Regions from separate parts of the Homo sapiens genome. Here region 2 is linked to region 1. Evidence: fine-mapped expression QTL. Tissue or cell type: macrophages. Region 1 holds a variant in brackets; the other region holds the start of a gene. All regions are shown on one strand. Distances are between the middles of the regions.

Evidence for each region. PIP is the estimated chance that this variant, and not a neighbour inherited with it, causes the effect.
Region 2: it holds the start of SNRPF, and the variant in region 1 is fine-mapped to the expression of SNRPF in macrophages (Alasoo 2018, PIP 0.95).

The regions. Positions count from the first base shown.
Region 1 is chr12:95,815,145-95,822,945 of GRCh38, forward strand. All of the region lies in intron 2 of SNRPF-DT (SNRPF divergent transcript), which reads right to left. All of the region lies in intron 1 of LINC02410 (long intergenic non-protein coding RNA 2410), which reads left to right. Among named protein-coding and RNA genes, the nearest start is that of LINC02410, 16 kb to the left of the region's middle. The variant CTT/C (reference allele first, on the strand shown) is at 4,165.
Region 2 is chr12:95,857,049-95,862,048 of GRCh38, forward strand. It overlaps SNRPF (small nuclear ribonucleoprotein polypeptide F), which reads left to right and starts at 1,904. Exons shown (of 4, transcript NM_003095.5): 1 at 1,904-2,028; 2 at 4,120-4,245. The coding sequence starts at 2,026. SNRPF-DT (SNRPF divergent transcript) reads right to left here and starts at 1,791. Exons shown (of 3, transcript NR_135014.1): 1 at 1,706-1,791. RefSeq lists enhancers at 1,613-2,228, 1,627-1,686, 1,737-1,796, 1,917-2,146, 2,177-2,226.

The DNA of each region.
Region 1 (7,801 bases):
CTCAAGTGATCCGCCAACCGTGGCCCCCAAAGTGCTGGGATTACAGGTGTGAGGCACTGCACCTGGCTGATTTTTATATGTTTAGATGAAAATTTCCAGAGAGTTCACGATTTTCATGATTATCAAAGGTCACTCTCCTTCTAAAAAGGTTCAATTATTGATTTAAGGAGTTCTTATTTGTCAGTCCTTATTGGAGATCCAATGCTCCAATGAACTGAGATACAATTTTGGGTTGAAAGATCTGAAATGGTGTCTTCTCTCCACTGACCACAAGCCGGGCTTTGAAATTAGAGTCGTAACCTTTCCCTTGCAAATCCCTGGAAGGTGTGCTTTCAACAGCTCGCTGCCGTTTGAAGGAAAAACTGTTCCAAATGTAATTATATACATATTGGGGATATTAAACATTTCTTCTGCGAAAGTTTCTTGTATCCTTTGTTTATTTGGTTAACAATACTTTTGCAACCCTATTATAAGCAGTATGTGCCAAGGATAAAAGGATAAACCCAAATACACGTGTCCTTTGTCTTTCTGGATGGATATATAGCAGAGAACATTTTCATTTTTCATAATTCTCTGTATCTACTGGAGAAAGAAAATGATAAAACATACCCAAGTTTATCTAATTTCAACCAGAAACTCTCAAATGAAATGCATGAAGTAAAGTGACATCTAGTGTTGGTTAAGTGGCAGTGAAATATGTGTCAGGACAAGGCATACTTTAACTTTCTTTGAACAGACTGTTAAACTTGGCTTTGTTAAGTTGCCAACTCCGGAAAGCATAGTTTTGCTTTTAAAAATATTTTAGAGTAATTCTGAAATAATCTGAATTTAAATGCTAATAACATTGTTTTTATTTTTTCAAAATAAAATGCTTAACGCCTACAGAAAAGTCTAGAGAATGAAATAACAGTTACGTATCTACCACCCAACTCTGTCAAATCTTAACGTTTTGCTTTACTTACATCAGATATTTTAAACATAAAATGTAATAGACACATTTGATGCCTTATTAACTATTTCTGATTTCATGTCCATCTTGTTCTCTTTAGAAGTAATCAATATTTGGTTTATTATCTCTGTGACTTTTTGTATTTTTATTACATATTTGTGTACACATAAAATTTATAATATTGCACATATTTTATAGCTGATATAAGGGATACCATATGGTACAAATATTTCTGCAACTTACTTTTTCTAGTTTAATATTATGCTTTGGAGATTTCGTGATATTGGTCATCTAACTTCAGTCATTTACTGTAACTGCTGTATGTTAGCATTCCATTGAATGAATTGTACAACAATTTATTTAATTTACAGCTGATGGACATTCAGAGTGTTTTCAGTCTCTTGCTCTTACAAACCATGCTACAGTGAACACTCTTATACGTGACCCATTGTGCACACATTTGCGAGTTTCTCTAGACTGCACAACGAGGAGGTATTGCACAAGTGTATACTTTCAAAACATCTCTAGCTATTGAGCATTTGCTCTCCAAGATGGTTGTACCAATTTACACCCTAGTAGAAGTGTAAGAAAACTTCTGTGGCTTCACATTCTCGCCAGCACTTGGTATTGCCAGGCTTTTTAATTTCTGACAATCTGCTTGATGTAAAATCTTATCTCATTGTGGTTTCAATTTGCATTTCTCTGACAAGTAGTAAAACTGAGTTACTTATTTATTTATTTATTCATTTATTTTGAGACAGTCTCGCTCTGTCGCCCAGGCTGGAATGCAGTGGCGCGATCTCGGCTCACTGCAAGCTCCGCCTCCCAGGCTCACGCCATTCTCCTGCCTCAGCCTCCCGAGTAGCTGGGACTACAGACGCCTGCCACCACGCCGAGCTAATTTTTTGTATTTTTAGTAGAGACGGGGTTTCACCGTGTTAGCCAGGATGGTCTCGATCTCCTGACCTTGTGATCCACCCGCCTCGGCCTCCCAAAGTGCTGGGATTACAGGTGTGAGCCACCGCACCCGGCCGAGCTTTTTAAAAATATGTTTTTACTACTGAAGTTTCTTCCGTGAATTGCCTATTCCTATTCTATGCCTACTGGATTGCTGGCATTTTCCTTTAAGTACTTGCTGATATAAGTACTTTGTAGGCTTGATATATTGCAAATATTGTTTCTCAGTTTATGGCTTGGCTGTTCACTGTGTTCATGGCATCTTTTCATTTTAAAGCAATCGACTTTGGCTGGGCGCGGTGGCTCATGCCTGTAATCCCAGCAATTTGGGAGGTCAAGGCAGGTGGATCACCCGAGGTCAGGAGTTTGAGACCAGCCTGGCCAACCTGGTGAAATCTGTCTCTACTAAAAATACAAAAATTAGCCAGGCGTGGTGGTGTGTGCCTGTAATCCCAGCTACCCAGGAGGCTGAGGCAGGAGGATCACTTGGAACCCAGGAGGCAGAGGCTGCAGTGAGCCGAGATTGTGCCACTGCACTCCAGCCTGGGCGACAGAGCAAGACTTTGTCTCAAAAAAATAAATAAATAAATAAACAAAAAATAATCAACTTTATGAATCTTTCCCTTTTTATTGCTTATTTTAAAATCTTTTTCCTTTTTTTTGAGGCGGTGTCTTGCTCTGTTGCCCAGGCTGGAGTGCAGTGGCACGATCTTGGCTCACTGTAACCTCTGCCTTTGGGGTTCAAGTGATTCTCCTACCTCAGCCTCCTAAGTAGCTGGGATTACAGGCGTCTATCACGATGCCCAGCTAATTTTTGTATTTTTAGTAGAGATGGTGTTTCACAATGTTGGCCAGGTTGGTCTCGAACTCCTGACCTCAAGTGATCTGCCTGCTTCGGCCTCCCAAAGTGCTGGGATTACAGGCTTGAGACACTGTGCCTGGCCTTAAAATCTTTATTAAGCTTTTCTCCTTTATTTTCTCTTAAAATGTTTAAAGTTTTTTTTTCCTTATTTAGGTTTCTAAATTATAAACTTTTCTGTATTGTGTGAGGTAGAAAATTCGATTCCTTTTGTATCATGGATAATGACTGTCCTAGCATTATTTATTGAAGAAACCATCCTTTCCTCATTGTTCATTTTAGCTCATCACCAAAGTCACTTATGAAATTAATTTGGGGCCAGGCACAGTGTTCACACCTGTAATTCCAATACTTTTGGAGGTCAAGGCAGGAGGATTGCTTGAGGCCAGGAGTTCGAGACTAGCCTCGAAAACAAAGTGAGACTCCCATCTCTACAAAAACTTTTCTAAAATTAGCCCAGCACAGTGATGTGTCTGCCATTGCATTATTTGGGAGGCTGAGGCAGGAGGATTGCTTGAGCCCAGGAGTTTTAGGCCGCAGTGAGCTTTGATGGCACCACTGCACTCAAGCCTGAGTGACAGATCTTTAAAAAAGAAAAAAATAATAACTTTGTAAGATTTGTCTTGCATAGCACTACCTGGCTCCTGAGGTTCCCTCAGTTAAGTCAGGTGTGTATACTGACTTCCACCTATGGGTTCATCCCTACTCACATGCTGAGCCTGTTTTGCTATCTGTTGTCTGAGAAATATTGGTCAGCATCAGGACCATTATTCCTAGTGTTTCCATACTCCATTCCTGCGTTCTGGCCATTTGTTTTTTCTTGGGGTCCAATCCTTGTTGTTTGCGCTCCTATTCTAGGTTCTGAGCTAGGATGGCCAACCATCCTGGTTTTCCCAGGACCAAACTACCTGGTTTCCCCAAATGCAAGACTTTATGTGCTAAAACTGTGACCATCCCTGGCAAACTTGGCCTGGATGGTTGGTCACTTTAGATGTATCCTGTGGTTTTTGCTTCCTCTTGTGTTGACCTCTTGACTGTCTAGTTTGGTGTTTTCTCTGTGCTCACAAATCATATTTACCTTGAACTTGTATTCGTTGAGTGCCTATGATGTCAGAGGCTGTATGAAGCATTTTCATATGTGGTATCTCATTCAACCGTTAGACAGCTCTGCATGATTTCCTTTTACAGATGAGGAGGATTTTATGTAGTTAGCCAGGATCACAAAATTAGTGACACAAAAGAATGAAACCCAAGCCTCCTGACTACACATTTTTTATTTCCACCAAACTTGTCATCTTTCCGGCCCGAGTTGCATACTTGGGGCCTCCACTCTGTACTAACTGAACTTCAGGGTGAACTCCATTATGCCTTGCCTAGCCTCTTGCTGTCCTTCATACAT[CTT/C]TTTTTTTTTTTTTTTTTTTGAGACAAGGTCTGGTTCTATCTATCGCCCAGGCTGGAGTGCAATGGCACAATCTCAACTCACTGCAACCTCTGTCCCTCTCTATCCACCAGGCTCAAACTATCCTCCCACCTCAACCACCCAAGTTGCTGGAACTACAGGCACAAGCCACAATGCCCAGCTAATTTTTGTATTTTTTGTAGAGATGGGGTTTGCCATATTGCCCAGGCTGGTCTCAAACTCCTAGGCTCAAGTGATCCACCCCTCAGCCTCCCAAAGTGCTGAGATTTATAGGCGTGAGCCACCACACCCAGCCTATCCTTCACACATCTTTAACCTAATATGATAGTACTTGAAGTCAACATCTTCTATTGCAAAGCACAAATGACAAGCCCATTTGTTATGCAATGGTATAAATATCTCAAATGTTTCATTAGGATAAGCACTAAGAAGAAAGATAAACGTGAATATAATAGCATGGCACATCACACTGCCACATCAGATTGCATCCCTCCAGTTAATATGTCATGGCATAGGATGCGGAATCTTTGCATTTTAATGTATTCATTTCATCAATATTTCCTTTTTGGTAGTTTATTTAAGAAATCCTTCATTAAGTTATTCTCCTTCAATTTCTCCAAATACCTAATTTAATTAATTTGTAGATTATGAATACAAAATATTATTTGTAGAATATTAGTTTCCCAAATATTAACAGAAATTAGGTGTGTATGTGGGATGGGAGGTGGGCCAATTAGTTTGGGAAACAAATATCTTATTATAGAACTTCTCAGTCTCTGTTTTGCTAATTTGCAGTGTGACTTTCCTACAGAGAGATAGAGTGTGTGGCATTTTTCAAATGCTATGAATTTTCCAAATGACCATGACACCTTTTTCTTTTGTTGCATTGGTTTTGTTTCATAATTTCCCATGTGCCTTGGAATATCCACTGGGAAACGGTGTTTTCATCTCTAACAGCACAATACCCTCCAGAGGGCAGCAGATTCCCTTGGCATATAGCCAATCATCTATTCATTGAACAGATTGATGAGGGACCTGGAGCATGTTATATTATTATTCCAGTCAGGGATGTAAAATTTCTAGTTTCTGTAACAGAGAGAGGCATTAAAATTTAGCTCAAGGCTAATAAAAAAATAAATTATTGGCACTGAGATATAATACAAAAAAAAATCCAATCATATCTCTGATGGATTACAATGGCATGCATTGTATTGTAAAGTCCAGATCATGTCTCTATTTATCCTCTTAGTCTCAATCAAACAACAAATATTAGTTGAGTGTTCCATAAGGAATAAAATGAAATATTACCATTAGTTCATTTCTCAAGGAACTAAGAGATCAGAGAGACAGTTAGATAAGGCAACACATTAGTTCATTGGATTTCATTGGCTGCAAATCAGAATCACTGGGGGACACTTTTAAACAATAATAATGCTCAAATCTCACCTAAGAACATTAAATTTGAATCTTTGTGTTTGGTTCCAGGCATGAGATTTTTTTTTAAATTATACTTTTAAGTTCTAGGGTACATGTATACATGTGCCATGTTGGTGTGCTGCACCCATTAACTCGTCATTTACATTAGGTATTTCTCCTAATGCTATCCCTCTCCCCTCCCCCACCCCATGACAGGCCCTGGTGTGTGATGTTCCCCACTCTGTGTCCAAGTGTTCTCATTGTTCAATTCCCACCTATGAGTGAGAACATGCGGTGTTTGGTTTTCTGTCCTTGTGACAGTTTGCTGAGAATGATGGTTTCCAGCTTCATCCATGTCCCTACAAAGGACATGAACTCATCAATTTTTATGGCTGCATAGTATTCCATGGTGTATATGTGCCACATTTTCTTAATCCAGTCTATCATTGATGGACATTTGGGTTAGATCCAACTCTTTGCTATTGTGAATAGTGCTGCAATGAACATACGTGTGCATGTGTCTTTATAGCAGCATGATTTATAATCCTTTGGATATATACCCAGTAATTGGATGGCTGGGTCAAATGGTATTTCTAGTTCTAGATCTTTGAGGAATCACCACACTGTCTTCCACAATGGTCAGACTAGTTTACACTCCCACCAACAGTGTAAAAGTGTTCCTATTTCTTCACATCCTCTCCAGCACCTGTTGTTTCCTGACTTTTTAATGATCGCCATTCTAACTGGTGTGAGATGGTATCTCATTGTGGTTTTGATTTGCATTTCTCTGATGGCCAGTGATGAAGAGCATTTTTTCATGTGTCTGTTGGCTGCATAAATGTCTTCTTTTGAGAAGTGTCTGTTCATATCCTTCCAGGCATGAGATTTTAAAAACATGTTTTCAGGTGATTCTAACGAGTGGCCAGGGTTGAGACTATTGCATTAAGAGGATAAAAAAGTATTTTTGGAAAGAGGTTTCTGACCTTTTCAAGCAGGTGGAGGAATTTAGAATCCTTTTCCCAGGGAGAATGTTTCAAATGTAGAAGAGTACAAAAAAGACAATGGTCATTCTTACATCCTCTGTTCAAAGTTAACCTTTGTTAGCATCTTTATTCTTTCTTAGCTGTCAGAATTGCAAACAACAAAATCATACAAAACCCACATCTTATAGTTCCTAAAGTTAACCTTAAAAAACATTTCCTAGGAGAGCAAAAGACATCATTTTTTTCATCTCCAAAAATGCATTATAACTCACCCTAGTTAACAAATAGTCTGGCATATTCCAAATAGATCCACTGGGCCATAGACCTCATCTAACAAAGATGAATTCTGTTCATTTGCTCTGTGAATAGAGCTAAGAGGCTTATTTGTGCAAAGACTAACTGATGAGGTGGAAGAGAGAGCAAGACAGCAAGAAAATATTAGTGAATATATATCTTCCAATTGCAAAGAGATATGGAGCAAGAACCTGCCTAGATGGAAGGAATGAGAACTATAGGCTATAGTTATGGATGGGAGGTTTTCTTTACGCAAAATTAACTAGCTTATAGTGGGAAGTGAGTGGATGGAAACGTGTCTCATTAACATCATGTTCGAACTTACCATAAGCTCAGTGAGGGTCAATAACCTGATAGGATGGCTGTTTTTAGGGCATCATAGGACTGAAGAAGACTTCCTGACAACCGTTAAAAATCTTTGAACTAGAAGACAAACTTGAAAAAAAAATACAAGCAGAAATATGTCCTCTGACAGCTGATAGGTATTTTAAGCAATGGATCCGATCCATATTTTGCAAAAGGCTCTAGAAATTAAACTAAAAATGCTTCACTAGGTCTAATGAAGTATATCTTGAATGATCCAGAGGAAGATATTATTTTCATCCCCATTTAATAGATGAAGTATCTAAAATCAGAGAAACTGACTGATTTTCTCTAGACTACAAGCTAATAAGTAGACAACTGGGACTTGAAACCAGGCACACTGATTGTCTCCATAGTCTGTGTGCTTAACCACTGCATGGTACTGCCTCATAACTTACAGAAAAAAATTCGCATTGCATTACAGAAAACCTATATATTCACACATTACATTTATTACCCATTCTAAGGGACACACTATAATGTCTCTAAATTTGGGATACTACTAGTAATCAATGGTGTCTATAATTTTAGTTGATACATATATTAATACATACCTGATA
Region 2 (5,000 bases), 41 kb after region 1:
TGAAAAGAAAAACCAACCTTAAATACACTATCTTTACAGAATGTGTTTACTGTAGTATTTCGTTTCACTTCACTGAGAAAACAGCTAAAGAGTCAGGCTTCTAAAACACATATTGAGTCTTTGAAAGGTAGCTTCATGAAGTAGAAAAAGCAGAGTTTTGAAACCCAGGTATGTGGTCCTGAGCAAGCTATGAGGCAGAAGAATAGCGGCTGGAAGCAGGGAACCTAGGGCCCATCCATGCTGACTGGGTATCAGAGGCTACTCCCATTTCAACCCCTCCTTTTTCTGCGTGGCAGTTGAAAAATGAAAGTACCTCTTATTGGTCCCCTCCCGCAACCAATCAGACTGGTTGTGGGCCAATGGGCAACCTCTAGAGGGTATTTAAAGCCCAGAAAATTCTATAACCAATGCTCTTGAGCCGCTTGCACCAGGCGGTGCCCACCCTGTAGAGTGTACTTTCATTTAAAATAAATCTCTGCTTTCGCTGCCCTGCTTTGTTTGTGCGTTTTGTCCAATTCTTTGTTGAAAACGCCAAGAACTCGGACAGCTACCCTCAACTGGTAACAGTTACCTGCTGGGCCTACTTCCTCATCTCTTAAACGGGGCTGTCACCCCGAATCAGACAGTAAGGTAAGATTTCCACGATTGTTGAAAAAGCCTGACACATAGTAGGAACTCAAAGTCTATACAAAGACTTAAAGTTCATAAAACAATAGACAAACGGAGAAATCCACTGAAGTTTAGGGTGAATAAATCTAATAACTGTTTGGTAAAAACTACACTGACAATCATTGTCTGGTCAGTGTTCAACATTTACGTGAAACACTGAGCTTTTACAAGGCCAAGCCCCGTTTTACGTTAAATTCTCGCAACCACCCTGAGGATGGTTCCGTTTTTAAAGCCGCGTTCCTGCCGAGGAAACAATGGCCCTCGGGGTTAAGACACTGCCCAACACCGGCCGCGCCTGATAGACGCAGGTTCCGAATGCAGGCCCCCTCCAAAGTCTTGCCCACTGCTCCACAATGCCTCAACACCCAACATTTCATCCTCAACTCCAAATCCATCTCTTCAGGGCCGCAAAAAAGCGTTACTTCCCAAAGGGCGTGTTCTCCAAGAACTGCATTTAGCATTTCAGATCAGAGTGACCCGAACTCAATAGGATTACGACAAAAACTAGTGAGATTCAGATAACACCGTTACATCGAAAGTTTTAATCCGTGACAGAGGAAATATTGCTTACGCCCTTAGGTAATTTCAAATGCACGTATGAAGGCCGTGCGGGTTTCTGCAGGCGAAGCAAAAGAAAGGTGGGGCCGGCAGGGTCGTGGGGCGGGGGTGGGGCATGACACCGTATCCCAGACGCAACTCGACCTCGTTTGCAAGAAATTCTGTATCCAACTCTCTTCAGTGCGTTTCGCCGCCCCTAGTCTAGTCTGGCTAGCCCCCAATTCCTTTAAAAGGGGTTAAAACGGGTGTTGCAGAAGAGAGAACACTCAGGTAGAAAGGGCCTGCGGCAGAGGCGCCCCCAAATCATGGAACCTGTTGGAAGAGTGAGGAAGGAACTCTGGGACCCCGAACATTCTCACGGGTGTAAAAAGACAAAGTAAATCCCCATTAGCCAAGTTGGGGAGAAGTCACATCCGTTACACAGCCTCTCCCAGACCGCCCTCTAGGAAGGACACCACATTTAAAAACACCGGCCTGCCTCCAGTCCTTGGCTGCCTCACAGCGATGCTCAGAGCCGGTTTCCCAAGGTCCGCGCGCCGCCTGCAAGGCGCAAACCCAAGCCGCTGCTGGTTGCTAGGAGATACTGGGCCAGCCATCTCCTCCAATCAGCACGCACCTCTTTGCGTCCAATCACAGAGGCAGGAAGGGCCGTGGTGGGAGGTGAAAGGTCATAGTCCTGTTTGGCGGCCATTTCTCTTGAAACTGCGGCTCGGGACCTGCGGTACCTGCTGTAGTCACGAGGGACGGGCGGCGGCCTGGTCGGCAGAGAGTAGCCTGCAACATTCGGCCGTGGTTACGATGGTAAGGAGAAAGAGAACGGCGGGAGAAGCGGGGAGAAAGAGAAGGAGGGAGACCAGCCTCGCGGGGCCTGCTGGTTCCTTCGCGCGTTTCCCATTCATCCGCGTGAGGCGCCGCGCACCCTGTCGCCAGCTCCTTTCACTCTGCTTTTAGGTTTCTGAGGCGCGTGCTCCTCCCGATGCCTTTCTTTTCCTAGGAGTGCCCGTGCCTTCTTCTCTTTGTTTGAATCCGGGCCTGGGGTATTCTTAGTTGGGGCTATAGGGTCGGGGTAAAAGTCAAAGAGAATTTGCACTTCCCACTTAACCACACTCCAGAATTCACTTTCATTCCGTGAAAGTAATGATACGGCCATGCTCTAGATTAACTCACTTGGGTGGGGAAGACAGACATTAGTCAAAAAATAACAAGTATGTAATTGCAAATAATAAGTGCTAAGAACAATGCAGACAGGAGGCTGTGAGGGTGCGCGTTAGACATTAGAGGCTTAGTCAGAGATGGCCTCCCTAGGAGGTGGAATTTAACTCGAAGCCTAAGTGTCATGAAATACGACCCTTTAAAGAGCAGGAGGAGGAGTGTACCGAGCACAGGGAATAGGAGCATAAGACCTGCGGCCGGAAAGAAAGCTTGGTCATTTGGAGAAATTGACAGAAAGGTATAGCCACTTGCGCGAATAGTGGTTAAGAGATGGTATCGGAGGAGCAGGCGTTGGGCAGGACCTCTTAGGCTGTATTGGGAGGTTTTGATTGTACTCCAAATCAATTTAAAATGATTCGGTTGGAAGCCATTGGATCATTTTAAGCAGAAATATGACAATCTGATGTGCACTTTAAAAAATCATAGTTACTGTGGTGGATAACAAATTGGAGAATGAAAACTGGAGACCCATTAGGTTATTGGAGTAATCGCCATATCAAGATCACTCCGAATATGCTCATGTTAGAGGGGGTTAGTAGCCAAGTTTCTTAGTTCTCTTCTTTGTTTGACTGGTGAGTGAGCAGAAGAGGGCAAAAACCGAAATCACTGGAGATGTTAATGGTTTGCTGAATAAATAGACATTAAGTAATTGCTGTAAGTAAGAGGCGGTGCTACTGACAAAGTCAGATAGGACCTAGCCCTAGCTTCCCCAGTTAAATACTGTCAAGCGTGATCTGCCCTCTGCTTCCTTCTGTAGTTTTATATTTGGGGCTTTGACTGACAATGCTGAATTGTATGTCCCCAAAACCACCTTGTTGCATCACTCTTCCCTCCTTTTACATAAGTAGCTAGCCTTGCCTGGAACAGCATTTTTTCCCGCTCTGGAAATAAACTCTTATCCTTTAAAACTGAGGTATTACTTATTTCAGGCAACCTTTCCTTTTTCCCCTGGATTGCTTTGGTACCCTTGTGCCTAGTATATCTCCTTTTACTACAGTGCAGCATGCAATATAATTATTTGTATGTGAGGAGTTCCCCTCCCCATCTCCAACTTCTTGACAGGGACTCATTTATTTATTTATTTATAAGAGACAAGGTCTTGCTCTGTTGCCCAGGCTGGAGTGCAGTGGCCTAATCATAGCTCACTGCAGCCTCGAGCTCCTGGGTTCAAGCAGTCCTCCCACCTCATCCTCCCTAGTAGCTGGGACTACAGGTGTGCACCACCACACCTGACTATTTTTGGTAGAGATGGGGGTCTCACTATGTTGCCTGGGCTGGTCTTGAACTCGTGACCTCAAGTGATCCCCCGGCCTTGGCCTTCCAGATTACTGGAATTACAGATACGAGCCACCCTACCTGGCCCGCTTTTTTTTTTTTTTTTTTTTAGTGCCTTTATCTTTGTTTCTTTAGAGCTCAGAACAGTGAGTGATGTAGGTAGTCAGTGTATCTTAAGTGAATAGTCAGTGTTTTGTTTTGATGGGTTAAAGGTGAAATTGGCTAACTGGATATTTAAATTTCCCTGGTACTCTCAACAAATAAAAGTGAAAATTATGTACTAAAATAATAAGGAGTCAAAAGTTTTCTTCATTTGCATACCACAAAATATTGGTGATTCGGTAGAAGAGAGTTGGTGGTGGGAGGAAAAATAATTAATTAGATCCTTTTTTGTTCTTTGTGCAGAGTTTACCCCTCAATCCCAAACCTTTCCTCAATGGACTAACAGGAAAGCCAGTGATGGTGAAACTTAAGTGGGGAATGGAGTACAAGGGCTATCTGGTATCTGTAGATGGCTACATGAACATGCAGGTAAGCTAAAGAGCTGTAAAGGTCATAACATTGCATTTATTTTGCTTCACCTTATTTCTCAAAGGTTTAGTCTGACTAATAAGAATACATACAATTAAATTGACAAATATACGGCAAAATTCAAAAATAAAGTCAAAGCCAGGAGGGATACTGTGATATACTAGGTACAAGACATGGACTTAAACCAGAATTCAGCTACAGATTTTATTCCTAGTAGTTAAAGTAGGAAGAGCTCAGACACTTGATTCATAATAATACCATAAGGGAAACACACTACTTTGCTGGAGAAAACAAAACATTTCTCATCATTTAGCCCTGAAAGAAAGTTTTCAAGTGAAATTATTGAGTCTTTTAATGAATGCTAAAGGCACAACACCAAAGCTATTGAGGAAATTCATTCCTTCAGGGGAAAGACAGATCTGCCAAAGGAATTGAACTGACTGTATGTCTGTCAAACGAGTTTCTGTAAATGATTCAGCCATGTGTTTTGGTGGGTTTTTTTGTAATTAATTATCTTTTTATTGTGGTAAAATATACATTACAATTTTGCCACTCTAACCATTTTTAAGTGTATAATTCAGTGGCATTAAGTACCTTCACATTGTTCTGCAGCCATCACCGTTGTCCATTTCTGGAACTTGTTTACCATCCAAAAGTGAAATTTTTTGCCCATTAAACAATAATTTTCCATTAAACAATAATTTTACAATTAAACATTAAACAATAATTTTCCATTCCTTCCTCCACCTAACTAA